Homo sapiens: one gene and its partners. The protein of the gene in region 1 interacts with the protein of each later gene in a pairwise test. Each region holds a gene or a part of one and is shown in the gene's direction. Other genes may lie near its edges.

The links.
Region 2: the proteins of TSGA10 (region 1) and ZNF599 interact in binary tests that used the Homo sapiens proteins (3 or more experiments, as listed by UniProt).
Region 3: the proteins of TSGA10 (region 1) and ZBTB39 interact in binary tests that used the Homo sapiens proteins (3 or more experiments, as listed by UniProt).
Region 4: the proteins of TSGA10 (region 1) and NAB2 interact in binary tests that used the Homo sapiens proteins (3 or more experiments, as listed by UniProt).

Annotation. Positions count from the first base shown.
Region 1 is NC_000002.12:99,144,929-99,151,955, reverse strand, and holds part of TSGA10 (testis-specific gene 10 protein), read left to right. Parts: intron 1-286; exon of another isoform or gene 287-1,121; coding exon of another isoform or gene 1,122-1,397; exon of another isoform or gene 1,398-1,473; intron 1,474-3,607; exon of another isoform or gene 3,608-3,692; intron 3,693-4,462; exon of another isoform or gene 4,463-4,554; intron 4,555-4,833; exon of another isoform or gene 4,834-4,929; intron 4,930-7,027. Other genes in the region: uncharacterized protein C2orf15, read right to left, coding at 1,122-1,397. UniProt on the Homo sapiens protein: Plays a role in spermatogenesis. When overexpressed, prevents nuclear localization of HIF1A.
Region 2 is NC_000019.10:34,770,201-34,777,178, reverse strand, and holds the start of ZNF599 (zinc finger protein 599), read left to right. Parts: upstream 1-3,963; 5' UTR 3,964-4,337; coding exon 4,338-4,355; intron 4,356-6,978. UniProt on the Homo sapiens protein: May be involved in transcriptional regulation.
Region 3 is NC_000012.12:57,003,522-57,010,386, reverse strand, and holds the start of ZBTB39 (zinc finger and BTB domain-containing protein 39), read left to right. Parts: upstream 1-3,840; 5' UTR 3,841-3,982; intron 3,983-5,425; 5' UTR 5,426-5,469; coding exon 5,470-6,865. UniProt on the Homo sapiens protein: May be involved in transcriptional regulation.
Region 4 is NC_000012.12:57,085,293-57,092,124, forward strand, and holds the start of NAB2 (NGFI-A-binding protein 2), read left to right. Parts: upstream 1-3,821; 5' UTR 3,822-3,979; coding exon 3,980-4,062; intron 4,063-5,832; coding exon 5,833-6,706; intron 6,707-6,832. Other genes in the region: NEMP1 (nuclear envelope integral membrane protein 1), read right to left, coding at 2,522-2,792. UniProt on the Homo sapiens protein: Acts as a transcriptional repressor for zinc finger transcription factors EGR1 and EGR2. Isoform 2 lacks repression ability.

The DNA of each region.
Region 1 (7,027 bases):
AGTATTTTTCTGATTAATAAAATATAGCTTCCCCCCGGAAAAGATGCCCTTTCCTCTTTTAAAATGAATATTAAAGAGATTTCCAACTACCAGATATTTTCATAACTGATATACAAAACAAGGTTTTTAAACAGGTTGTTTTTTCTCATATTAAATATTGGTGACATAAAATGGTACCATCTGCAAGACAAACTATTAACACTTGGAAAGAACACTTTTCTAACTCTAAAATGGATTCTATGTGGGGGGAAAAAGCAGTTTTAAAGGCACGATTTAAAATGTGAAATCCTTCTGAAGATATGCAATTTATTGGTCTTTTGCAGTTTATTGGCAGTGATCTTTTACAGAACAAAAATGCAAAATGTAAGAAAGTAAAGTATCATAAAGCAGAATCCCAAAATGGAAATGTAACATACAAAACTGATACACCAGAAATATTGTGAAATACGGATGTCACATTGCTTGGACTTTTTTTTTTTTTTTTTTTTTTTTGAGACGGAGTTTTGCTCTTGTTGCCCAGGCTGGAGTACAATGGCATGACCTCAGCTCAGTGCAGCCTCCGCCTCCAGGGTTCAAGCGATTCTCCTTCCTCAGCCTCCCAGGTAGCTGGGATCACAGGTGCCCACCACCATGCCTGGCTAACTTTTTGCATTTTTAGTAGAGATGGGGTCTCACCATATTGGCCAGGCTGGTTGCGAACTCCTGACCTCAGGTGATTGACCCGCCTTGGCCTCCCAAAGTGCTGGGATTACAGGTGTGAGCCACTGCGCCCGGCTGCTTGGACACTTTTTTTAACCACTTGTTAAAGAAATACATTAAAATGAAAATGTTTTGATGCCATTCAAATACTGTTACTTAAAAACTCTGGTTTTTAAGAAGGATATAATATAATACCAGAGAAATCTGCTTTGAATCTTGGAAGGCTTTTTCACCCTAAAGCAACTGCCTTTTGAATAAGCATCATAAAAAAATGCAGTGTAAGATGATTCACAAATAGTGCAAAATAAGGCAATAGTCTTCCATCATTTTGTCAGGGTTTCCTAATAAGGTTAAGTTCTCTTTCAACACCCCCCTTAGTCAAAGGCAGTTTTTGGTTTCTTTGGTAATACGTACAAATTGCTTCATTCCACATCTGTCATTTCTAGTCCATCACTTTCTTTGACATATACCACTGAACCCAAGGCTTTCCCAGAAAGAGATCCTGTGCCAGTCCCTTCAATCCTTGTAAAGTTTTCTTGATTTGTGTCTTCTAATCTTATTTTCTTGGTGTTTTGAAATAACTGAGTCGCTGGTTCCAACCTGCTTTTTTCAGTCCCTCGTATTAAGTGATCATCCACTTTTGAATCCATATGTATAGCAGATACCTGAGTAGCAGATTTACTAAGTGAAAATCCCATTAGGATAGCTGAACAAATGTGAAAGTAATTTGCAGGTACCTTTTTAAGTAGTGGAAGTGTTTCTTCAACTTGATTACTGAAAAAAAAAAAAAAAGTAACAAGTGAATGCAGCAGGAATTTCCCTAACTTCATGGCAATGTTTGTTTGAATGAAAAGCTGTGGTGATACTAGAAATATAAAGTAAAATTGCCTCCTACCTTTCAGTGTTTACATTTTCTTTGTGGGAGGGTTTGCAGGTTCTAAAGATTTATTTGAAAGTCTTTTTAAAAGGAAATTTATCTGATTGTATGTTTTATCACCTTTCAGAAAATAGTAGAGCTTCTCTTAGTCCTTTCTTTCATTCTTGCTAGCGAAACCTCTTTATTCATTACTAATGGGCTAAAGAAATAACGACTGAAGGCCAAGTACTCTGCTAGTACTTTATTTTCTGTAAAAAATAAAGATGTCCTATAAAGATACTTGTGATTGGCTGGGTGCGGTGGCCCACGCCTGTAATCCCAGCACTTTGGGGGCCGAGGCGGGTGGATCACCAAAGGTTAGGATTGAGAGACCAGCCTGGCCAACATGGTGAAACCCCATCTCTGCTAAAAATACAAAAATTAGCTGGGTGTGGTGGCATGCACCTGAAATCCCAGCTATTCAGGAGGCTGAGGCAAGAGAATAGCTTGAACCTGGAAGACGGAGGTTGCAGTGAGCCAATATTGCACCACTGCACTCCAGCCTGGGCGACAAGAGCGAGACTCTGTCTTAAAAAAAAAAAAAAAAAAAAAAAAGATACTTGTGATTAAGGATGTCTAGTCTGTAAAAAGAGATGATCGGCCGAGCGCAGTGGCTCACACCTGTAATCCCAGCACTTTGGGAGGCTGAGGTGGGTGGATCACGAGGTCAGGAGATCGAGACCATCCTGGCTAATATGGTGAAACCCCATCTGTATTAAAAATACCAAGAATTAGCCGGGCGTGGTGGCGGGCACCTGTAGTCCCAGCTACTCGGGAGGCTGAGGCAGAAGAATGGTGTGAACCCGGGAGGCTGAGGTTGCAGTGAGCCGAGATCGCGCCACTGCACTCCAGCCTGGGCGACAGAGCGAGACTCCGTCTTAAAAAAAAAAAAAAAAAAGATGATCATGTAGCATGGAGGGAGGCCTTGGGAAGTTTCCCAAAGGAGGGGAGCCTAGGTTAGGGTTTCGCTTTCAAAGATGGGCAGGAATTTGGTAGGCAGAGTTGACCAGGATGGCAGAAGGGACAGGCTTCCTGTACAGAAAAGGTTTGAGAAAGCCCAGGGCTTACTGGAGAAGAGTGATCTACCCAAGATGCTATAGTAGCAACCTGAGATCTGGAGCAGATTCCACAGCTTCGATCGAAATCCCTCACCCATTTTTTTTTTTTTTTTGAGATGGAGTTTCACCCTTTCACCCAGGCTGGAGTGAAGTGGTGCGATCTCGGCTCACTGGACCTCCACCCGGCAGGTTAAAGTGATTTTCCTGCCTCAGCCTCCTGAGTAGCTGGGATTACAGGTGCCCGCCACCAGGCCCAGCTAATGTTTGTATTTTTATTTTTATTTTTATTTATTTTTTTTCCAGTCTATATTTTATTTATTGTGGTAAAATATATATAACATTTACCATTTTAAACACTTTTAAGTGTACAATTCAATGACATTGAGTACATTTACATTTTTGTGCAAACATCATGGTCATCCATCTCCAGAACTTTTAATCATCCCAAACAGAAACTCTAACGTTTGTATTTTTAGTAGAGACGGGGTTTCCCCATGTTGACCAGGCTGGTCTTGAACCCCTGACCTCAGGTGATCCACCCACCTCAGCTCCCAAAGTGCTAGGATTACAAGCATGAGCCACTGCGCTCAGCCTCACCCACTTTTTAGAATGTATTATGTCTTTAATATTTACCTACTGTGGTATCTTTGATAGTTTACAATTTCATACTCATCAAGCTGTAATTACTGACTGAACATTTCTAAAGAATCATCTTGAAACCCTGTTTATCCATATTTGTGACTGAATATCAGTGTTTATAACAAAACAGAGTCCTGGGTCTACTGTAGTAGCCTAAATATAGTACTTACTCAAATATTAATATAACAATTAGGTAAATAGTATATATTTGGCTTTCTGGGACTCAAATACAACTTAGCTAAATTTTTTAATATCTCTGATGAAATTCTGAAATATGGGTATATTTGATTTTTAGATTTGGAACTTGAAGATGAATTTTTCTTCCTCATCAAAGGAATATCTAATACTGCCTTCAAATGAATAAAATTGAGTTTATTCTATTTGGTTTCTCTTTTTCTTAGAAAGGAAATACTCCTGTCAAATGCATAACTTGAATCTAAACATGAGGAAACAATCAGATAAACCCAAACAGAAGTATCTTCTATGAAACAAATAGCTTCTACCTAAAAATGTCAATGTTATGAAAGACACAGAGAGGCTGAGGAACTGTTTCAGATTAAAGGAGGCTAAAGATACATTATTTCAGATGCAACCAATGCTCTTGAATTGGGAAGGGGATGGAATGTACTACAAAGATCATTACTTAGATAACTGAAACATTTGGATATGGGACAATATTAGATAATAATATTGGATCAATGTGATAAATGCCATGAATATGATAATTGTATTGTGGTTATATAAGTCAATGTCCTTGTTCTTAGGAAATACATACTGAAATAGTTAGGGGTGAAGAATTGTATCTGCAACTTGCCCTCAAATTGTTTAGCAATAGATAGATAGATACATAGATACAGAAAGACAGTAAAATATGCAAAATGCTAACAACTGTTAAATCTAGGAGGTAAAGCTTAAAAAGTTGTTCTACATATTATTATTATTACATTTCTGTAGGTTTAAAACTTTTTCAAAATACAAAATTGAAAAAACGTTTTAAAAAACACAAAACTCTAAAACATGGCATTTGAAATCAACAAACGTAAAAGAATGGTAACATATAATTATCAATTTGCACATTAAACTTCAATCTAATAAAAGGACTGAGGAGGAACCAAGTATAATAGGGTAGACTTGGCCCTGTGAGTCTTACCTTAACTTCCCCAGAGTTGAGGACATGAAGGGTGAACAAGTCTATTGGGGGCCTCTTTGGACTGGCATTTAGGTTGCCATTCAAGAAGAAATCTGGAATATATATGTAAGAATAAAGGTACATAAAGAGATAAATCAATCTGGAGAAAAAGAACAAAGTGGCTTTCTTTACTAGATATTAAGATAGGCTACGCGGCTGGGCACAATGGCTCACGCCTGTAATTCCAGCACTTTGGGAGGCCAAGGTGGAAAGATCTCTTGAGTCCAGCAGTTTGAGACCAGCCTGGGCAACATAGGGAGACCTCATCCCTATCAGAAAAAAATTAAAAAAAACAAAAAGATATGCCACAAAGTGAAAGTAATAAAAATAACCTTGTACAGGTACAGGAACAAATAATCAGTAGAATATGACAGAGCTGTAACTTGGACTTAGGTATTTCAGGAACTTCACATATATCACAGGTGGCACTATAAGACAAAGGAGATAGAACAGACTAAGTTTAGTATGATGGTATCGTGAACATTGGCTAACTATGTGGACATAAGCAGGATCTTAAACACAGAAGTAGGCTGGGCGCGGTGGCTCACGCCTGTAATCCTAGCCCTTTGGGAGGCTGAGGTGGGCGGATCACGAGGTCAGGAGTTCGAGACCAGCCTGATCAACATGGTGAAACTCTGTCTCTACTAAAAATACAAAAATTAGCCAGGTGTGGTGGCGGGTGCCTGTAATTCCAGCTACTCAGGAGGCTGAGGCAGGAGAATCGCTTGAACCCAGGGGGTGGAGGTTGCAGTGAGCTGAGATCATACCATTGCACTCCAGCCTGGGCGACAGAGCAAGACTCCGTCTCAAAAAGAAAAAAAAGTGGAGTGCAAATGCATTAAAGACCTAAATGTGAATGGCAGAACTGTAAATGCAATAGAAGAAAATATCTGTTACCTTGGAGTGAAGAAAGATTTCTTGAACAAGACTAAAAAGCTTAAACAATAAGGGAGGAAAACAGTGAGTTTGATTACTCATAATTGAGAATTTCTATTCAATGAAAAAAATATAAACAAAAAGATAGATAAGAGACTGGAAGGAGATATTTTCTGTGTCCAAAGCTGATGGTATTTAATGGCTGGAATAAAAAGAGAACACCTAGAAATTAGCAAGGAAAAAGAAAACCCAATAGAAAAATGGGCAAAGGATATAAAAACATAATTCACAGATTGAGGAATCCCAAACAGATAATTAACTAGGAATCAGAGAAATTCAAGTTGCAAAGAAATTGCAACCTCCGCCTTTCTGGGTTCACATGATTCTCCTGCTGAGGCCTCCCGAGTAGCTGGGATTACAGGCACCTGCCACCATGCCCGGCTAATTTTTGTATTTTTAGTAGAGACGATGTTTCGCCATGTTGGCCAGGCTGGTCTCGAATTCCTGACCTCAAGTGATCTGCCCTCCTTGGCCTCCTAAAGTGCTTGGATTACAGCATGAGCCACCGTACCTGGCCACATCTGGCTAATTTTTAAAATTCATTTTTTTTGTAGAGACAGGGTGTCACTGTGTTGCCCAGGCTGGTCTCGAATGCCTGTACTCAAGCAATCCTCCCACTTCCCAAAGTGCTGGGATTACTGGCGTAAGCCACCATGCCTGGACTGGTTTGAACCTTTTATAACAAAACCCAGATCACAGCAGTCCTCTGCTCAACACACTCTAGTTGCTTCCCATATCAGAGAAAAAAATTATCTACATATCTGGTCCCCAGCTGTGGTAGGCAGAATAATAGTCTTCAAAGATGTCTTTGTCCTAATCCCCAGAAGCTGGGACTATGTTATGTTATGTGGCAAGGGGGAATTAAGGTTGCTAATCAGCTGACTCTGAGGGTGGGAAAATTCTCCTGGATTAATTGGGTGGTACTAATGTAATCACAAGGGTCTTTTTTTTTTTTCTTTTTGGGACAGAGTCTCACTCTGTTGCCCAGGTTGGAGTGCAGTGGTGTGATCTAGGGTGACTGCAGCCTCCGCCTCCTGGGTTCAAGTGATTCTCGTGCCTCAGCTCCCAAGTAGCTGGGATTACAGGTGCCTGCCACCACGATCAGTTAATTTTTGTATTTTTGGGGAGAGACAGGGTTTTGCCATGTTGAACAGGCTGGTCTTGAACTCCTGACCTCAAGTGATCCACCTGCCTTGGCCTCCCAAAATGCTGGGATTATAGGTGTGAGTCACCGCACCTGCCACACAAGAGTCTTTAGAAGTGAAAGAGGGAGGTAGAATGTGTTAGCCATGATGCAATGTGAGGAGGACTTGACTGGCCATTTTTGGCGTTGAATATAGACTGGGATCACAAGCCAAGGAACATGGGCTGCCAGTAGAAGCTGGAAAGGCAAGAAAGGGGATTTTCCCCTAGAGCCTCCAGAAGGAATGTAGACCTGCCTGACATCTTGATTTTAGCCCAGTGAGACCCAATTTGAACTTGTAAATCTCCAGAACCGTGTGATAATAAATTTGTGTTGCTTAAAGACACCAAGTGTGTGGTAAATTGTTGCACAGCCGTAGCAAACAACTCTACTAGCAAGCACTCTCT
Region 2 (6,978 bases), on another chromosome or scaffold:
TTTTGGTATCATATCTAAGAATTCTTCACCTCACCCTTGGGCTTGACAATTTCCTCATAATGCTTTTATCGTTTTAAGATAGGAGGCAAGACTCAACTCCAGAGGCATGGTCAGACATTGGACCAAATTGAGGACTATCTAAAACAGGGATGAGGTGGAAGCAACTTTCCATAAGACACACCCACCAGTGTGCCATGTCAGTTTACCATTGCCATGGCAACACCTGGCTGTTACTACCCCTTTCCATGGCAGTGACCCTATGACCCAAAAGTTACTACCCCTTCCACAGAAATTTCTGCATAAACCGCCCCTTAATCTGCATGTAATTAAAAGTGGGTATAAATATGACTGCAAAACTGCCCTGAGCTGCTACTCTCTGCCGATGGGGTAGCCCTGCTCTGCAGAGGCAGTCACAGAGCTGTAACACTGCCTATTCAATAAAACTGTTTTCTTCTACCACTGGCTTGCCCTTGAATCCTTCCCTGGGTGAAGCCAAGAACCCTCACAGTCTGAGCCCCACTTTGGGGCTCCACTAATTCCTCACTAATAATGTGAGGAATTTGGTTAGTTGTGATTTCCTGTTTTTGCAATCATTTATTAGAATCACAGAAATAGCAGTGAATTATTCAATAGAAACAGCCGCTGCCTTGCTAATTAGTTTATAAAACTCCAGAACATTTTTGTTTGATTCAAGAGCTGAAGAATCGCAAGCCCATGTTTAAAATTCTGGGAATATCCCTGAGGTGTATATAAATAGTGTTGTTATTTAATGTGGGAAAATAATAATCAAACCCATTAACTTAAATTTAGCCCTAGTCTTGTGTGAAGTGAATATGTGTAAATAAAATATATGAATTCTGTATGAAATATGAGTTAGGATTGCATGATTGCCTAAAGCCCATCTCACACAACTTGTCTGTCCAAATATTTTGAGTCACAATTTATATAAAAACAATTTACATTAAAGTTACATTTACATTTTGTACATTGTACAAAGAGGTTTTGAAATAAATCAAAGTAGTAGCAATAAAGCACTTACCTATTTTGTTGATTGAAAGTAAATGCAACAAAGAAATTCTATTACTTAGGATACAAAATGATAAATTTATTCTACTTTGGATGTTTACCTTTCAAATATATATTTCATCTAATTTCATTTGATATAAGTATTCTGTAATCACTGAGAAGGAATGTATAACATATTAACTCAATATTTAGCAACTACTCATTTCCTTGATGTGTTTCATAACTTCCCTTGACTCTAAATAGGATTCTTTTTAAAGAAATTTTCCTATTTCCAAGTTTTGTATTTTCGCAGTAATAGGTCTAATATTTTGTTCGTATAAATTTACTAATATGTTTTGTTGACACACCTCAGCAATGAAGTGAGTATCCTCATAAATAAAGCTTAGATTTTAGACTATAAAATGTAACAAATATTACATAGCAGGATTTGACACAAACTTTGGTTTGGTCTAAGTTACAGCAGTGTTGTTTTGTTTAAAAAGCCTTCATGAGATATAATTCACTTACCATATAAATCACACGTTCAAAATACATAATTCAGTGGTTTTAACATATTTAAATATATGTGCAACTATCCCCCACAGTTATTCTTAAAACATTTCATCACTTCACAAAGAAACTCCATATCCCTTAGATATCAATCGGCTGTCCCACCACTACCCACCATCCCTAAGCAATCACTAATCTACCTTCAACCTCTATAGAGTTGCCTATCCTGCACACTTCATATACATGGAATTATATACTGTGTGGTTATTTTGTAGCTGATTTTTTCACTTACATGTTTTCAGTGTTCCTCCATGCTGTATTGTATATCAGCACTGCAGTCTTTTCTTATGGCTGAATAATCTGTTATAAGGATATATCACATTTTGTTTATCCATTCATAAGTTGGTAAATGTGTTAGGTTGTTCTTGCTTTGCTGTAAAGGAAAACCTGAGACTGGGTAATTTACGAAGGAATACCCCAGACTGGGTAATTTACAAAGAAAAGAGGTTTACTTGGCTCACAGTTCTGCAGGCTGTACAGGAAGCATAGCACTAGCATCTGCTCAATTTCTGGTGAGGCCTCAGGAAGCTTCCAATCATGGTGCAAGGCAAAGGGGGAGCCAGTGTAGCACATGGTGAGAGCAGGAGCAAGAGAGAGTGAGGGGAAGATGCCACACACTTTTAAACAGTCAGATCTTGAGAAAACTCATTATCTCAAGAATAGCACCAAGGGGATGGCATCAAATCATTCATGAGAAATCTACCCTCACGATCCAGTCACCTCCCAACAGGCCCCATAATATTATATGGTTTGGCTGCATCCCCACCCAAAATCTGGACTAGATGCATAACATATCACCCTGAGATCTTAACATTCAGATGAGGTCAGAGACTGCATGCAGATTTTGGCTTCTCGCATTAAGAAGCATGTGAGAGTGTAGAATGTATAGGATAAATAATAGAATGGAAATCTGATGACTAAATTAATAGATTTTACTAGAAAATGGCCAAGGACTTATCAGTCCCATTATCTCTTTCTGGATGCTCTGGAGGACAGCACATCCTGGCTTCTCTTACATGTGGAGCTATTTGAGTGGTTTGTAGGCCATGGAATATAGGCAGAAGTGATTGCAAAATTGTGTCTTCATTATGTTTTCTTATTTCTGCTCCATCCTGGGGATGCCTCTTTGGATGTAATGCTTTTACTTTTCACAGTGTCCAGGATTATTGCCCTCTTCATGTGGGCTACAGGTTTGGGTGGTGGGCTGAAAGTGTCTTGATGAGACAAGATCTGGTGACCCTGAGTTGCTGGGCATAAGCTGGGCCATCTGGTTTGTGCCTGGTTCTGGCTTCCCTGGGGGCTGGAGGGGCAGATGGGGAGGGGTCAGATCCTGGTTGCTGTGAATTAGAGATGAACAGTGACACGCCATCTTACATCACAAACTAGAAACCATGTCAACTCCACTCTTCCCTTAGGGCTGCAGGTAATTAGTCTCAGTGATCCTAAGTTTTGAATCATGTAAGAAAGTATCCCTTGGGCAATAGGTCTACCTGTATATTAGGAAACCCTCCTGCATATACCGTTTTAAAAAGATGCATACGCCAAATGCTGCAACGTATTATTATGTAAAATTTAAACAGTATTCATGAGGCTCCTGTTGAATCAGTCAACGTATTTGTTTTGACAAATATCAGAGTCTGCAAAGAAGTATCTCAGACCCTCCCCTAGCAGTGTATTGTGATGATGTTGCCAATAATACAGAATATTAATAATGACAGCAATAGCTCTTATGTTCTTATCGGTATGTTCCAGGCCCAGTGCTAAGCAATTCTTAGTTACTTCCCACCAAACAGGTGGCTTTGTCTCATTTATTTACTGGAATTTAAAGAGTCTGGTTCTCAAATGTTTTGCAGCATCCACTTTTCCTGGACAAGTTAAGCAGAGGGCTGGGTCCCACCCCCCAGAGTACCTGATTCAGTGGGTGGGGACTAAGAACTTGCATTGGTAACAAATTCGCAGGTAATGCTGATGTCATCTGAAAATTACTGATAGGGGAAATTTTAATATTATCATATTAAATAATTATCTTCATTTTCCTTAGGAATCTCCATCTCAAGGCTCAGAGAGATGAACTGCTGGCGCAGGGATACACAGGGAGGAAAGTCAAGGCGTGAGTTGCCTGGTAGAGACATTTGAGAGTGGGTCATTGCCTCAGATAATTTCCACGGAACTCTGTGTGCCTCTCCTTTAAGAAGAGGTGAAGCCAATCCCTTTCTTGGGAGCCTTGAGAAGCCGCCTCACCGAGAACAGAAAGTGCGCTCCAGGTACCACCCGGATTCCGTCAAACTACATTACCCAGAAGGCAGTGCTACAAGGGACGGAAGCCGACCCCAAGCCATAGACGGAAGGCGCAGAGGGGCGTTCCCGTAGCGGCGTGGGCGGGACTTCCGGCGTCCAGTCTTCGTCCGCCGTTAGGTTGCGGCTGCTGTGGTTGCCAACGCTACACTGGGTAGAACGCCAGACAGGGGCCACTTTTCGAGACCGAGTAGAGACGGACAGTGAGGAGGATAGGACCCACTTACACGCTTTTATGTCAGCCGCGATCCCACCCCCACAAGCGTCTGCAAAACCCTTCCTGGGGCCTTGGCGACAGCCCTGTGTCCTCACGGCGCGCAGAGGCGGCGCCGCGAACCTTGTGTGCATTTTACACGACGGCGGGGACTGAGGTCCCTCGCAGCCCAGAGCCGGAGCCCGGGGTCGGCCGAGCCCGCAGGACCGGCTTCCTCGCCGACTCTCACGGCCTCACCCAGCCCCCTGGGCCCATGGCGGCGCCGGCGTTGGTGAGTGGAGGGTTCCGCAGCCCGCGCGAGCTCGGGTCACCGCCCGCATGCACCCATCCGCTGTAATACGGCGGATGCCGGGACTCTGTGCTTCTCCCTTTTGATGCCCTAGGTTATGGAGATCCCGGGAGAGGGTGAGGTGAGAGGGCAGGGCTAATCACTTCCTACCCAGGGTCCTGAATCCAGGACAGGAGTTGTAAGGAGAGGTCCCTGTCTCTGGCTCTAACCTGGAGCTGTCGCCTCGCTGCCCTCGGCCTCCATTCCCTCGGGTCTAAAATGCGAGTCTCAGTAATTTTCTCTGTGGAGGGAGCTGGAGAGGGTACGCTTGTGACGTGGGTCCTGTCTTTCACTGCTCGGAGAGCATCACTCTAGGTGCCGTCTTTGAAGAAGGACTCTCTAGGTCCTGCTGTTGTTTTAGGGGATCATTCCAGCGGAAGTCTGGCCCTACCAAAAGCTGGGAGAGGGAATGAGAGCCTCGAGGGCAAGAGGTGAGGCGGGAGCAGCATTTTTGGCAGGAGGCTAGAAGACAAGAAGCTCATTGGATTTATCTTTGCAGATGCCGTCTGTTTATTACAAATGAATCTGGCTTGCCGCCTAACAGCAGTGAATCCGTGCTTCTGTTTAACACATGCTCTTGTATTTGAAAAGCAAATCCAGCACAATATTCATTAATGACAGTGTACATGAATGTATGTCTCTTGGAGTGTGAGCACATAAGGCCCCAAGTTACTCTCCAGCATGTCACACTGTTTACTCCTCGTAGCTCTGATCACCTTCAGGAGTTGTCTATTCATTTTTCCTCACCTGGTCTGTTCTCTAACTTCAATCTAACCTTGTTCCAGGGTCTCTTCAGAGAGAGCTTCCCTGGTTGCATCATGTAAAGTCTCTCCCAGTCTTTGTGGTCTTCTCACTCTTGTGTTGTTTTCTAGAGTCTTCTGACTTTATCTTGATTGTTTATTGCTGAGGATCTGTCCCCCAACCCCAGAATGTCAGCTTCTGTTCTGTTTTTCATCCCCAGGCCCAAAACTATTCTGTTCTGGGCCTGTACCACTTAGTCGATAAGTGATTAATGAATGAGATTCTATCCTCTGGGGCTCCCATCCTACTTAGATTTCATCTAACCCAACCCCACCCCATACCCCACCATGGCTGCAAAGTCACTGCCCAATCCACCAGGACACTCCCCCTGCCATTCTTCTCTCCTGCACATGCCAAGCTCATTGGACGATTTTCTCTGTCACATTGTCGCCAGATCTCTGCAAGGCTGCTCCTGGATGTGTGCTGCATTGAGCTCTCCTAGGGTGCGACAGGAGCAAATAGGAAAAATACTAACAGCAACAAATAGTAGCTGGTCTTCACTGAGCGCATTGATAATGTGCTGAGAGGCAGTTTCTGTGTATTACCTTATTTAACGCCCTTCTTCTCAGAGTAAAATTCTTTCATTTTCCTTTCTTTACAGAAGAGGAACCGGAGACTCAGATTAACTACCCAAGGTTGCATAGCTCATAAGTAACAGAAACAATCCAGTATGTCGAGCATAAAAGCCTACATTTTTTATTTATTTATTTTTTTTGAAAGAGGGTCTAGCTCTGTTGCTCACACTGGAGTGCAGTGGCCCCATCGCAGCTCACTAGCAATCCTCCCCACTGAGCCTCCTGAGTAGCTAGGATTATCGGTGTGTGCCACCACACCCAGCTAATTTTTTTTATTTTTTGTAGAGATGGGCTCACTGTGTTGCCCAGGCTGGCCTCGAACTCCTGAACTCAAACAGTCTTCCCACTTTGGCCTCTCAAAGTACTTACTGGCATGAGCCGACGTGCCCAGCCAGAAGCTTACATTTTTAACCAATATTTCACCCACAGTGGATTGGAGATCCCTGGGGGCGACAGCTGAAGTACACTTTGCAAGGGGAAGGTGCAGGCCTCTCTCTAGCAGGTGGACATTGGAATGAAGGGGTCTTTGGGGAACCTTCCCGGCAAAGGGAACTGCATGGACAAAGGCAGAGGCATGAGGAGACATAGAGTGACACCAAGGCTTGTCACCTGCTGACGTGTCTTGTGTGATCATCTGATGATCATCATGCCAACATCCCATTCTCACCCAGGACAGACGTGGTGCTTAAGGCAGCTGCCAGGTTCTTAGAGCCACAGCCTGCATTGCCCTTGGCCACTTGTGTTACCTGTACCTAAGGGAAATGTGCTAACCGTGGCTCAGGAAGAAAAAGAACAGGTTGGCGCTCATTGTGGGATATTCCAGGGAGTCTACAAGTCCCAGCTGCCTGAGGGCAGGGAAACTTTGTTTGAGCTCTCCCAAGCCCTAGGCAGTTGGCACCTCTTCAGGTGCCTCTTCTATGAGGCAAAGGAAGGCTCTGCTCTTCCTTCCATACCTCTGGCAATATTTTCAGGAGTGGCTGAAATTGTTTTAACTGTAAAAATTGTAGGAAGTATTTTTAGCCCTTGTCACTGTGGATTCACTGTGGTGATGGAGGAGTACAGGGGTTACACCCATAGATCCTGGACCCGAGGGATGTGGGTTCAAATCCTGCTTCTGCTCATTAGACATACAACTCTGAGTGACTTGACTCTGAGCCTCAATTTGCTGATTGTGAAATGGAGATGATGAC
Region 3 (6,865 bases), on another chromosome or scaffold:
CTCCTGCTGCCACAGCAGGTTTTCAGTGGGACTTTTTTACAGGATATAAGATGTGATTTCAGTGTTTTTTTTTGTTTTGTTTTGTTTTTTGTCCTCAGTACTCCACTTCCGGACTCCTGGACTGCATTAGGAAGACCTCTTTCCCTGTCCCAATCCCCAGGTGCGCACGCTCCTGTTACCCTTTCTCTTCCCTGTTCTTGTAACATTCTTGTGCTTTGACTCCTTCTCCATCTTTTCTACCTGACCCTGGTGTGGAAACTGCATAGTGAATATCCCCAACCCCAATGGGCATTGACTGTAGAATACCCTAGAGTTCCTGTAGTGTCCTACATTAAAAATATAATGTCTCTCTCTATTCCTCAACAATAAAGGATTTTTGCATATGAATGATGTGGTGTGTGTGTTTACTTGTTTGGTTGGTGGGTTTTTCTGTTCCTTGACTCCTCCAGCTACATGGTAAATACACACATACTTATGATACACACACTTCATATTTAAATGTAAATAACTTTACATATCTTTTTGTATATATCTATTTCCTGAACAGTGCCTTACACAGTGCTTTGCACGATGAGTATCAGATTTATTTAGTGATTAAAATAAATACACGAATTTGGAAGATGGTTTCTAACACACAAAGATTTTTACAGACCAGTTTTAGATAAAGAAAAAACAGGCCGGGCCCGGTGGCTCACGCCTGTAATCCCAGCACTTTGGGAGGCCGAGGCGGGTGGATCACGAGGTCAGGAGGTCGAGACCAGCCTGACCAACATGGTGAAACCCCTTCTCTACTAAAAATACAAAAATTAGCCAGGCATGGTGGCGCATGCCTGTAATTCCAGCTACTTGGGAGGCTGAGGCAGGAGAATCGTTTGAACCCAGGAGGCAGGGGTTGCAGTGAGCCGAGATCACGCCACTGCACTCCAGCCTGGGCAACAAGAGCAAAAAACTCCGTCTCAAAACAAAACAAACAAACAAAAAAAACAATAAAAAAAGAAAAAGAAAAAGAAAAAAAATATTCAGAATGACTTGTATTACTAGGATGGGTCTGGGAGATATTCATTCCTGAATCTGACCCTACTTAATTAGAGAAGGAGGTGGGGATCAAGGCTGTCCGGAGACCCAGCCACAGAGGAGGACAAATCTATGACCCTATACAATTTTTTTGTCTCCAAATGCTGAGCCTGGGTTCTGTGACAGATCCTGGGGATGAAATGATGACTCATACACAGAGTTTACAGTTTAGCAGGGCTGTGGACAAGCAAACAGAACTTGATCCAGCTAGGATGGGATGTGGACAGGGAAGTTACTACCGAGGCCAAGAAAGAGAGGAGCAGATATCTTCACCGTTAACTGGCTGCCTTAGTTATTATAAAGGGAAAACATTTATCTCCCACTCCTCTCTAAAGTGCCTGTTACCAGCTCCTGCAGCTCTGACTTAACAGTCCCCAGAATGTGTAAGGCACTTACATGTGGTATGCATGGGTATGGATGTCTTTTACTAATCTATGATGTCAACTATCACCCGCCATCCTAAGGGGGGTTCTGTACCCTAATGGAACAGCCAGTGAAATCCTCAGGCTCCTTATCTTAGCGTGGTACAGGGGCCTTTGTTATGCCCCTGAATTGCACTGATAAAACATCAACACATAGATTTCCCAAGGCAGTGTAAGGACAGGGCCACAGAGCCAGAGGCCACTTCCTGCAGTCCTTTCATTCTAGTGAAAATTCTATCTTCCTACAGCCTGACTTGGGGCCACTTTGGAATGACAGCTGTATAGTGGGGGGCGGGGAAAGGAGGGAATACTCACCCTAGTATTACTTATGTCAGCTTTATAGCCAGAGGTCAAAGAATGCCCCCACCCCAGAGCCTAGACCCTTTTTCCAGTGAGTCATCTCTTTGACTTTTCAAAATTATCTATCTATAGGGCTTAAAACTGGGGACACTTTTGCAGAGTCTAGGGGCTTTCTCTGGGTCATGAAAGCTACAAGAGTTGGTTCTGCTCAGACTTGGTGGGAGTTAGGCTTATAGGCTGAGATGAGACAATTGCTTTGCAAGTAGGAACATTAAGTGCAGAAAGATTGCTCTCTAGTGGGACTGACAAAAATTGCAGTACTGGGGACTCCAGAAAAAAATGAAGACAAATGTTAAGTTAGATTCCTGTGTTTGTACTTGAAGAATGTGTGAAGGGATCCTGACCCTCCCTTTCCTGTTGTAAAACAGTTGATGCCTAAAGAGATCTGGTCCACAAGACCTTGACTAAATTCCTGGCCCTTTCTTCTCCATTTAACTTTGTATATGTTTGTTATTGTGACTATATGGTGATTTACTTTAAAAAGACTTCAGTATAAGTGGTATATACTTTCACCTGCGTCTTTTGGATGATTTGTTTTCATGTGAAGTTTATTGGGGTCAACCCTCCAGAGATGGCTGGGGCAGTTGGTTAGAAAGACTGTATAGGCCCAGGCCCTTGCAAGCCCAGCAGCCCTCTGTCTCCAGAGTCATGCTGGAGGTCTGGACCTGCTGGCTGTGTGATATTCCACTTTAGGGAGACTCAGTCACCTTGCACAACTGTGAGAGCTGGGCCTGCCACTGAAACATTGTGTCAACCTCTAAGTGACCCTTTCACTAGATGGTAAAGTGAGATGCCTCATCCCCAAACTATAAGAACAGTTCTATGGCTGTTTTTGTATCTCCTGGCTAACAAATGTTACATGTTTGGCAGCATTTGGTATAGTGCTTGCTTTCAGTATAGTCTGCCACCAGTTAATGAGGTTGTGGAAAGGAGGACACACAATCTCCCAAATTCATCAAGAGAATGGACAATTGCTGAATGGCCAAACTGGCTTAGATCTGTTGGCAACATTCAGTGTGTCCCTTCCTTTCCACTTATCCATCAAGGAATTACTGAATCCTACCATGCGCCTGTCCTGGGAGTTTGTCCTTGGCTGCAAGCTATTTTCAGGCAGTGACTGGGATGGGATGGGAGAGAGGATGAAACTGAAGGGTCTTGGAGCCTAAGAGCTTCCTCTGTACTGAGGGAGGGAGGGCGACATGACGAAGACTTCTAATGTCTTTGGTGGTGGTGGGTGGGGCAGGCAGTGTAGGTGGTTTTCGTTTGATGACAATTCTTGGGCAGAAGCATTTGAAAAGATGATTTGGGAGAAGGGTGGGGAGGAAGAGTGATCGAGTTCTACACAGAGTTGGGGAGGGCAGGCTTCAGGAAGCAGGCCTGGGGTGCCAAAGTACAGTGAGATCCGGTGACTTTCTTCATTTGGCCACCTAGATGGAAGGAGGGACAGCAGTGGATTATCAGAAGGGTCCAGTAGTAGCGGTCTAGCCCTCAAGTGCTCCTTCATTCATTCAAGCAGGCTTAATGTATTAAGCACTTATTGTGCCAGGAAGTGTGGTAAGGGTCAGTGTGGACCTGCGGCCGTGTGCAAAGCCACAGATCCCTGCCTTCAGGAAGCCCACAGCCTAGTGGAGGAGATATATAGTAATCAAACAATCTTACAACATTTTGTAAAATGCCCATAGTAGATGTTCTGAGGAGAAGCTTTTGGAACTGTGAGCGTAGAACAGGGGAGGTGAAGAGAGTTTGGATAGGGTTTTTCACTCTTCAGGCACCAAGTCCCGCGCACAGTGGATGGGCGCTTAGAAAAAGCCAGCCTGGGGACTTGGAAGCCCCTGCACCCCTCGCGCAGGTCCTGGACCCGGCCCCGCCGTGGGGGGGCGCTGCCTCCTCCCGGGCGGCGGGGGGCGCTGCGGCCGGGCGGCGGGGGGCGCTGCCTCCTCCGGGACGGCGGGGGGCGCTGCGGGCCGGGCGGCGGGGGCGGCCCGGGCCGTCGCGGCGAGCCGCGCGGCGGATGGAGAGTCTGGCCGCGGCCGGCGGCGCCGCCTCCTCGTCGGGCCGGGCACGGCGGGCCGGGGCCTTTGTGTGAAGCGGCGGCGGCGATGGTGCTCGGGGCGCCGCAGAGCCGGGTAAGCGCGGCCAGGCCGAGGGCTGCCCCTGGCCGAAGCCCGACCTTCGGCCCGGCATTTATCTCGCTCTTGCTGGGGTCCCTCTTGCCCGCTCCCTTCGGCCGGACCCATCCTCCCCGCCCGCGCGCCGACCCCGGCCGGCCCCGCCGCCCCTCGCTTGGCCCCTTATTCAGCCCCATGCCCCCAACAGGCTCACCCGGGTGAGCCCCGCGCTGTTTGTGGAGGGACTGAGGCGCTCGTTGCCTCCAGAGGGAGCGCCCCAGCCGATGCAGCGCCCTTCCCTCCCAGATGCGACTCCGGAGGGGAGACCGCGGCGCCCGGGGATTGTTGGGGTGTCCTTGGAAGTTCCCAGCTTCCCCCTCTCCCACCCTCTCCTCTGGCTGCCCAGTGCTCCGACCCGCCCATCGTTCAGGGGTGGCCACCAGGGCCCGGGAGATGCTTGGCCGGTACCCCACAATACTTAGACGCTTCCTGGGCCCCAGAAAAAGTTGGGAGTTGTTAGAATCTGGAGAGATGGAGAAAGGGGCTGTGTTGGGCAGAGTTGTGAGACTGAACAGGGATGCAAGTAGCTCTTCTTCCTTAGTCGTGCAGGAGTCAGAAAGGGCAGAAAGTGGTAGTGAACAAGCCTCTAGGAGTCTTACCTGTATAATTAGAAGTCTTTCTTGCGGCATCAAGTAAATCTGTTAGTGCAGGGACAACAAAATATAAACCCCGAAAAGGGTGGCGAAAAAGAATACAACATATTAAAGTAATATTAAATACTACCACAGTTGTGTTCTACTTTTCTTACTGTGCATTCTGAGTGTTTTAACTTCACAGAATACAGGGACTGTGATAAAGCAATATCTGGAGGGGCTCTGGGTTATCGAAAGGCCAGAGAGCGGGTATGTAGTATAGGCAGAGAGAGATGGGGATTCAAGAACGTGAGATTTATTTGGAGATTATTGAGAGGTTGAAGACACAGCAATGACAAAGCTAAAAAACGGAACCACCTTATATGTTCCTCAGTAGCTAGTGGAGCTTTGATAGTTGTGTTCAAGCATGTGCATGGTATTTGGCATCATGAGGGAAAAGAATATGCTCAATGAATTAGGAAAGCTTGTATTTGGGAGGAAATTAATAGGAGAAAAATTTGATCCAGTGGCTCTGGTAATGAAGTATAAGATTGTGTCCAAGGGAATGCCTCTGGTTCGTCTCTAGGCACCAGCTTAAAACCAAGCTATCAGATTGTCATCAGTCGTTTTGGTTTTTGTCATAACTCTTTGAGTATATACAGGGGGAGATGTCATTGCCTTGTCATAATGGAGGAACTCTCCATGCCAGTTTACTCCTGATCCCTACCTGGGGCTTGGAAGCATTCAGAGTGATGGTATTTTCTCCTGCATAGCCCCTCTTTTGCACGGATGTGTTTGGCCATCCATCTTTTTCTCTTGCTATCCACAGATTAACTGTGCTGATAAGGAGGTAATTTCATAGGAGCTGCTAAGATGGGCATGAGGATCAAACTGCAAAGCACCAACCACCCCAACAACCTGCTGAAGGAACTCAACAAGTGCCGGCTCTCAGAGACCATGTGCGACGTCACCATTGTGGTGGGGAGCCGCTCCTTCCCGGCCCACAAGGCTGTGCTGGCCTGTGCAGCTGGCTACTTCCAGAACCTCTTCCTGAATACTGGGCTTGATGCTGCCAGGACCTATGTGGTGGACTTCATCACCCCTGCCAACTTTGAGAAGGTTCTGAGCTTTGTCTACACTTCAGAACTCTTCACAGACCTGATCAATGTTGGGGTCATCTACGAGGTAGCTGAGCGTCTGGGTATGGAGGACCTCCTCCAGGCCTGTCACTCTACCTTTCCTGATCTGGAGAGCACTGCCAGGGCCAAGCCCCTGACCAGCACCAGTGAGAGCCACTCTGGTACCCTGAGTTGTCCTTCGGCAGAACCTGCCCATCCCCTTGGAGAACTCCGAGGTGGTGGGGACTACCTTGGTGCTGATAGAAACTATGTGTTGCCCAGTGATGCTGGAGGGAGCTATAAAGAGGAAGAGAAGAATGTTGCCAGTGACGCTAACCATAGCCTGCATCTGCCGCAACCGCCCCCACCACCGCCAAAGACAGAAGACCATGACACCCCTGCTCCCTTCACGTCCATTCCTAGCATGATGACCCAGCCACTCCTAGGCACTGTCAGCACGGGCATCCAGACCAGCACGAGCTCCTGCCAGCCATACAAAGTTCAAAGCAATGGAGACTTCAGTAAAAACAGCTTCCTCACCCCTGACAATGCAGTAGACATTACCACTGGGACCAACTCCTGTCTGAGCAATAGTGAGCACTCCAAAGATCCTGGCTTTGGGCAGATGGATGAGCTCCAGCTCGAGGACCTGGGGGATGATGACTTGCAGTTTGAAGACCCTGCTGAGGATATAGGCACAACTGAGGAGGTGATTGAGCTGAGTGATGACAGTGAGGATGAGTTGGCTTTTGGAGAGAATGACAATCGGGAGAATAAGGCCATGCCCTGCCAGGTGTGCAAGAAAGTTCTAGAGCCCAACATTCAACTGATCCGGCAGCATGCTCGGGACCATGTGGACCTGCTGACGGGCAACTGCAAGGTCTGCGAGACCCACTTCCAGGACCGAAACTCCCGGGTAACTCATGTCCTGTCCCACATTGGTATTTTCCTTTTCTCCTGCGACATGTGTGAAACTAAGTTCTTTACCCAGTGGCAGCTGACCCTTCACCGACGGGATGGAATATTTGAGAACAACATCATTGTCCACCCCAACGATCCCCTGCCAGGGAAGCTGGGTCTCTTTTCAGGGGCAGCCTCCCCAGAGCTGAAATGCGCTGCCTGTGGGAAAGTATTGGCCAAAGATTTCCATG
Region 4 (6,832 bases), on another chromosome or scaffold:
CCTCAGCCTCCTGAAGTGCTATGATTACAGGTGTGAGCCACCGCCCTGGCCACTCCTGGAAATCTCATACTGACTGCATCATCACCTCCTTTGGATGCCTGTCTAAACCAAGGCCCCTCACAACTCCAAGCAGAACAGATCACTCACCCTCTTATACTTCTGTCATTGTTGTACCCATATTATTGCACTATGTTGTAATTATTCGTTTATAGGTCTATTTCCCCTATTAGTCTGTGAGCTCCTTAAAGGCAGTGGTTAGGATTATCTGTCTTTCAGGAGTGAAACATTTCTTGTAAAATAACTAACTTGAAGGACAACATTCCTTAGATGATAAATTCTGCCATGTTACTGAAAGAGAAAAAAGGGATCATTACTTTATACTTTTCTATTACCAGCCAGGACTTCGGCCTACTACCTTTAGCATCTGAGTGTGAATTAATTTACCAGAATGGTGGACATTTTAGAAGGCCAAGGAGCCAGATTTGTGGGACTCACTGGAAACTTTACAAGGGAAAGAGATATGGAAAACAAATGTCTTCACTTAAACAGTTTTGCCCAGGCTCAGCCCCTTTGGGAGTAAAATCTGTGTCATGTGCCCTTTCAAAGTTGCACAGGCCTGTGAATAGGATCAATTTATTCATTTCAGAGGGTCCACCAGATAACAGGCCTATCCTGGAGAGGTCCTGGATTTCGGCTGAAACAAGCAACTATAATTGGAAATGTGTACAAAGAGCAATGAGGAGGCCACCGAGGGGTGGGAGGAATTAATTCTGCCTGGAGGAGTGGAAGGGGTCCAGGAAGGAGAGGGTGAGCCAAACCTTGCTGAGTGAGTCGGATCTGGCCCAGTGGAGACGTTGGGGGAGGAGTGAGCAGAGCAATCTGCTAGATGAAAATCTACACGTGCGCGTAGGGACGACAGTCTCTGCACTCCTCTTCCGCCCACTTTCCTCCCTTTCCTCGCAATCGTTTCCCCTTTTCTTGGAAAACTAGGACTGAGGATACTGTTTCCCTTCACGGAGGAGACCAGCACAGATAAAAGAATATTAATCCTTTTTATCACGAGATCAGTTCCTCTGGTCTGTCTTTGAGAGCACTGGGGATGGGGAGAGCAGGTGAGTCAGGCACAGAAGTGGTCCTTCTTTGAGTGAGCCAAGGGGACACAGGGGAGAACAGGTCCCATGCAGGAAACAAATGAAAATTTTTGTATTTGTCCCCACTCCCTTTTTGTCACCACTCCCCCCCCCCCACACACACACCTGTCTCTTTATGTTTTTCTATAGTTTCCCATGGTCTCCGTCTTTGTCTTTGCCTCTTTCCCTTTGCTACAGGCTGGAAATTCCTTGTTCTCAACGGAAGGGAGTAGGAGGGGAGTTGGGGGTGGCAGGAGTGGGCGGGAAGAACAGACATCTCGGCAGCTCTGGCTGCGGGCTGCGGGGGCGCTCTGGGCCTCTGGCGGGCCCTGACAAGTCAATGATTTTTTAAATAGGGGCTCATACACAAACCTAGAGAGAGAGAGGAACACAGATATACAAGTGGATATAAAGAAACATATAAATACATAATCTCGGGTACAGAGACACAAACTGGCAGTAGCGTCTTAAATATGCTTAGCATTCTACAATTTAGAGAGTTTTCCCGTACATTCTCTCATCCGAATCTCACGACAATCTTGAGAAACAAGGGCACAAAGACACAAACACCCGGTAGTTTCACTCTCACACACGGGTTCGCACCCGGACCCCCGCTGGCTCCCCTAGGGGAGTGGGCAGGCCCCTTCTGCGGAATTTCTCTTCCCTCGTCCCTCTCTGGCCGAGCACCCCCTCTCCCAGGACCCGGGAGCGGAGAGCTCAAAATCGGCTCCTCCCTCCCCCTCTTTCCCGGATCAGGACCGGGACCCGGGCGCCCCGCGCCCAGTAGGTTGCCGCTCACTTGCTCACGCCCTACTCCGCCTCCTCCTTGGGCGGGCGTCTCCCTCCAGATCCTAAGGCTCAGCGCCGCCCCAAGGGGGCCGGGGTGGGAGGGAGGGGGGCGCCTCGAGCAGAGGCTGCGTGGGCGGAGGATGTGCGTCACGGGGAGCGTGGGCTGGGGGAGGGAGGGGGCACGTGGAAACCCGGGGCCAGCGGCTGGCAGCCCGGGATCCAAAATAACCTGAGGTGGGGGGGGAGGGGTCGCCCACACCCCGTACGGGGTCGGGAGCGTCCCCAGGGGAGCCCGTCTAGCCGCACCCTCCAGTTGCGGGGCGGGGGACTGGGAGACGGGACTCTGCTCGTTCCCACCACCCCCACTGTGTTTGGCGCTTAATAGGTTGGAGAAGAGGACCTGAGCAACTGAAATCCTCCCACCAACAACGCGCTCCTTCTCCCCGGACCCCACAAGGCGGAAAGGTCTCCTCGCTAGGCCACATTGTAAAACCAGCCCCGGTCCACGGCCTCCACGCCCCGCCATGCCCCACCCCAGCCCCTCAGAAGTGCGGACAGAGAGGCGGGGCGGGGCTGAGATTCCGGACTAGGGGAAACCTCACCTGTGGCCAGTCCGCTCGCTTTCCCCGGCCCCCACCCCCCCTCCTTTCCCTGGGGCTTAGAGTCTATGGGCCGGGCCCTTAGAGCCCCCGCCTCCCCCAACAGCCCTCCCAGCCGTGGGCGGGAGTGCAATGCGAACCAGATGGGGCTAGGAGAAACCAAAGGGGGAGACGGTGGTGGGTTGCAGAGGCGGGGGCTAAGCTCCTTCAAGGCGCTCCTCCTTCCAGCTCCGCCGCAGGAAGTCACGTCGTAGGCTCCCGACCTCTTACTCATCTTCCACTAGACTCTCGGGCGAGGTCCCTAATAGACGGCCCCAGGAAGGGTATCGTCTTTGTCACACAAAATTCCCAGGCAGGGCCTCATCCTCAGCAAACAGAGGACAAGTGGAGGAATCCCTGCCTGACCTACGCGCTGACAAAAGCCGACGCGTCTAATCAACACGCGCACCTAAGTGGTGGCGTGCAGCATAACCCTCCCATTCCTGTTTCCCAAACTTTCCAGGCTAGCATGGAGGCCTGGGTTTCTGAGAGCGACCCCCTCAGATTATTCCATTGGGGCTGAGGAGGGGCGCGGGGATATCTAGGAGATCCCTGCAGAGCCCCACGCTCTCAGGCCCGCCTTAAGTGCACACTATACGGGAGTCAGATGCACGCACAGGAGAAGCCGCACAGCCCAGCCTTCGCTAACTTTTCCCGGCTCACTGCTAACATTCACACGTCCAGCACCACAAGGCCTGAGTATGGGCAACGGGCGTCCCCGTAGTTGTTTAGGCGCGTGTGCACGTCCGTGCGCTTCTGTGTCTTTGTGTACTTGTGCGTGGTTGTGAAACTCCTCTCTCAGCTCGGAGGGGTGGGGGAGAGAAGGAATGTCGCCGGCGGGGCGCTCACGTGGGTACGTGGGCGCCAAGAGGGCCGGCTGTGCATCCGGCGTGGGCGGCACAGAACGACCTCGCCCCGCCCGCTGGGTCCCCAAGCCCGCCCTGCACAGCCGGGCCTCGGTCACCTCGGTCCCCAATTCGGCGCCCCGGCTCTGAATCCCCGCCCCCGCCTCCTGCTCCACACCCCCTCCCCCCCCGTCTCCGCCTCTCCCAGTCTCTAAGCCGCGGCGTCTCCGCGGCCGAGAGGCCCCAGCGCCCGCCTCCCCGGCCCCCGCCCCCACCCCCGCCCCCGGCTCTGCCCACGCCCTCCGCCCGCCAGCCCGGCAGCCAGCGCAGCTCCGGGCCTCGCTCCCTGTGCGTCCTGCGGGGGCGGAGGCGCGGAGAGGCGGCAAGCGCAGCCGGGGAGGGTGGGGGGGCAGAGGCACAGACAGAGGCGCGGAGGCTCGGAGAGAGAAGACGTGGAGGGAGGGACAGAGCCTGGACAGCGGTGGACACGGCATCGTGCGCGGGGAAGAGGGCAGCACGCAGCAGGCGCCGAGCGCCGGGCACCGAGAAGGGCAGCCCGGGTGATCTCCGGCCGTCCATGCACAGAGCGCCTTCCCCCACAGCCGAGCAGCCGCCGGGCGGAGGGGACAGCGCCCGCCGGACCCTGCAGCCCAGACTCAAGTTAGTGGGCAAAGGGAGGCAGCGGGGAGTGGAGATGGGTGGAGCTGGACTTGGGAATGGGGTCCAGAGGGCGGAGGTCGAGGGGAGGACGTGGGGAAGCAGGACGGGGGTGGGGGGTGGAGACTGATGGAAAAGGGGGTGCGTCTTCGAATTAGGGGGCCCTGGGAGCAGGCAAGCATCTGATGAAGCTGGATATGAAAGAGTAGTACCCAAATCTCCATTCCTGGTTTACTCTGTGGGCTCCATCTGGCCTAAGAGCCCCCTGCAAAGAATGTGGGAGCCTCCAAGCACCAGGGGATGCCCTGGAGCTCGAGCTGGCATCAGTGCGGAAGGTGGGGGGACGCTCAGTTGCCTCAGTCCCTCGTTGGCACGGAGCGCGCGGGCCCCCGGTGCCTTTGAGTTAAAGGAGCATCAGCGGGGGAAAGGGGGGGTGACGAGGGAGGCAGGGAGGCCTTAGGCGTTCCTTCCCATATCTGTCCCTTTATTCACAGAGCGGGGAGGGGAGTTTCAGTGTGCAGCCCCTTCATCAAGAGGCCTTGAGCCGCTCCCCCACTCCACTTGAAGATGCGGGTGGAAAATATGGGAGAGGAGAGTAGGCGGGAGCCCCTGGGCGGTTTTCGCCTACAGACGCTACCACTGTGGGAGTGTGTGTGGGCGGAACGGCCCCGGAGCAGAACAATTGCGCCCCTCCCCCTGCCACGGCCCCTGAGCTGAAGGAAAAGGCTGACCGAGGAAGTGGGGAGTGTCACTGCTAGGAGAGGGGCCACTGAGGAGCACTGGGCAGCCTGGAAGGGTGGAGAGGTTCTGAGGGGAGAGAGGAAGCGTGCGTTAAGAATGCTTAACCAGGCCGGGCGGGCCCGGTGGCTCAGGCCTGTAATCCCAGCACTTTGGGAGGCTGAGGCGGGTGGATCACGAGGTCAGGAATTCGAGCCCAGCCTGACCAACATGGTGAAACCCCGTTTCTACTAAAAATACAAAAATTAGCCGGGCATGGTGGCGGGCGCCTGTAATCTCAGCTACTCAGGAGGCTGAGGCAGGAGAATCGCTTGAACCCGGGAGGCGGAGGTTGCAGTGACAGCGCCACTGCACTCCAGCCTGGGTGACAGAGCGAGACTCCGTCTCAAATAAATAAATAAATAAATAAATAAATAAATGCTTAACCCCTGGGAAAAGCTGAGCGGAGAAGAGTAAGGCACCACCTGGCTCACTGAGTGGGAAAGCCAGGGAAGGTGCCACACCCTCCCTTTTAGCCACCTGGGGCTGTGGCCCCTTCACAGGGAATGAAGCTGGCCAGCAGCGTCCACTGTGGGGGAGACTGGGCTCCTACATTCACTTTAGTATGGGTGACTTCACTTCAGTGTTGAGACTGCTGAGTGTTTAGAGGGGAAGGTGAGGATTGTGTTTTGGGGGAGAGGGAGGTCCAGCCATCCCAGGTCGGTGCTGGTCAGCCTCAGCGCTCAAGTTCTTCTTGCCCCAGACCAAAAAGATAAAAGCTGAAGATAAGGTTGTAAGACGCTTCGACTCCTACAGACACAGGCCACTGACTTTTGGGGCTTCGGGCCAGTCTAGGACGGCACTGGCTTGTCCATGCCTCTGAGCAGTGCCTGATTCTGAGAGTCTGTACTCAGACCTGGGCACTGGGCAGGATAGCATCCAAATGAGGGAGGGGAAGAAAAGCAGGCAGGAAAGAGGGAACAATTGTTAGTGTGGGTTGGTACCCAGTAGGGGGACTTGCACCGACTGCCTCTCTCTTGTGCCCCTCCTTCTCAGGCCCAGTGCCCGAGCCATGGCACTGCCTCGGACGCTGGGGGAGCTGCAGCTGTACCGGGTCCTGCAGCGCGCCAACCTCCTTTCCTACTATGAGACCTTCATCCAGCAGGGAGGGGACGACGTGCAGCAGCTGTGTGAGGCGGGTGAGGAGGAGTTTCTGGAGATCATGGCACTTGTGGGCATGGCCACCAAGCCCCTCCATGTCCGGCGCCTGCAGAAGGCACTGAGAGAGTGGGCCACCAATCCAGGGCTCTTCAGTCAACCAGTGCCTGCTGTTCCCGTCTCCAGCATCCCGCTCTTCAAGATCTCTGAGACTGCGGGTACCCGGAAAGGGAGCATGAGCAATGGGCATGGCAGCCCAGGGGAAAAGGCAGGCAGTGCCCGCAGTTTTAGCCCCAAGAGCCCCCTTGAACTTGGAGAGAAGCTATCACCACTGCCTGGGGGACCTGGGGCAGGGGACCCCCGGATCTGGCCAGGCCGGAGCACTCCAGAGTCGGACGTTGGGGCAGGAGGAGAAGAGGAGGCTGGCTCGCCCCCCTTCTCCCCCCCTGCAGGGGGAGGAGTCCCTGAGGGGACTGGGGCTGGGGGGCTGGCAGCAGGTGGGACTGGGGGTGGTCCAGACCGACTGGAGCCAGAGATGGTACGCATGGTGGTGGAAAGTGTGGAGAGGATCTTCCGGAGCTTCCCAAGGGGGGATGCTGGGGAGGTCACATCCCTGCTAAAGCTGAATAAGAAGCTGGCACGGAGCGTTGGGCACATCTTTGAGATGGATGATAATGACAGCCAGAAGGAAGAGGAGATCCGCAAATACAGCATCATCTATGGCCGTTTCGACTCTAAGCGGCGGGAGGGCAAGCAGCTCAGCCTGCACGAGGTGAGAACCCCCAGGCCTCCTAGGATTGCCCTTGACTTCCAGGTCTCCAGCCGCTTACCTCTGCGAGTTTCTACAGTCTCCGACTATCTTTCATTATCTCTTGACCAGGACCCCAGGCCCTGATCC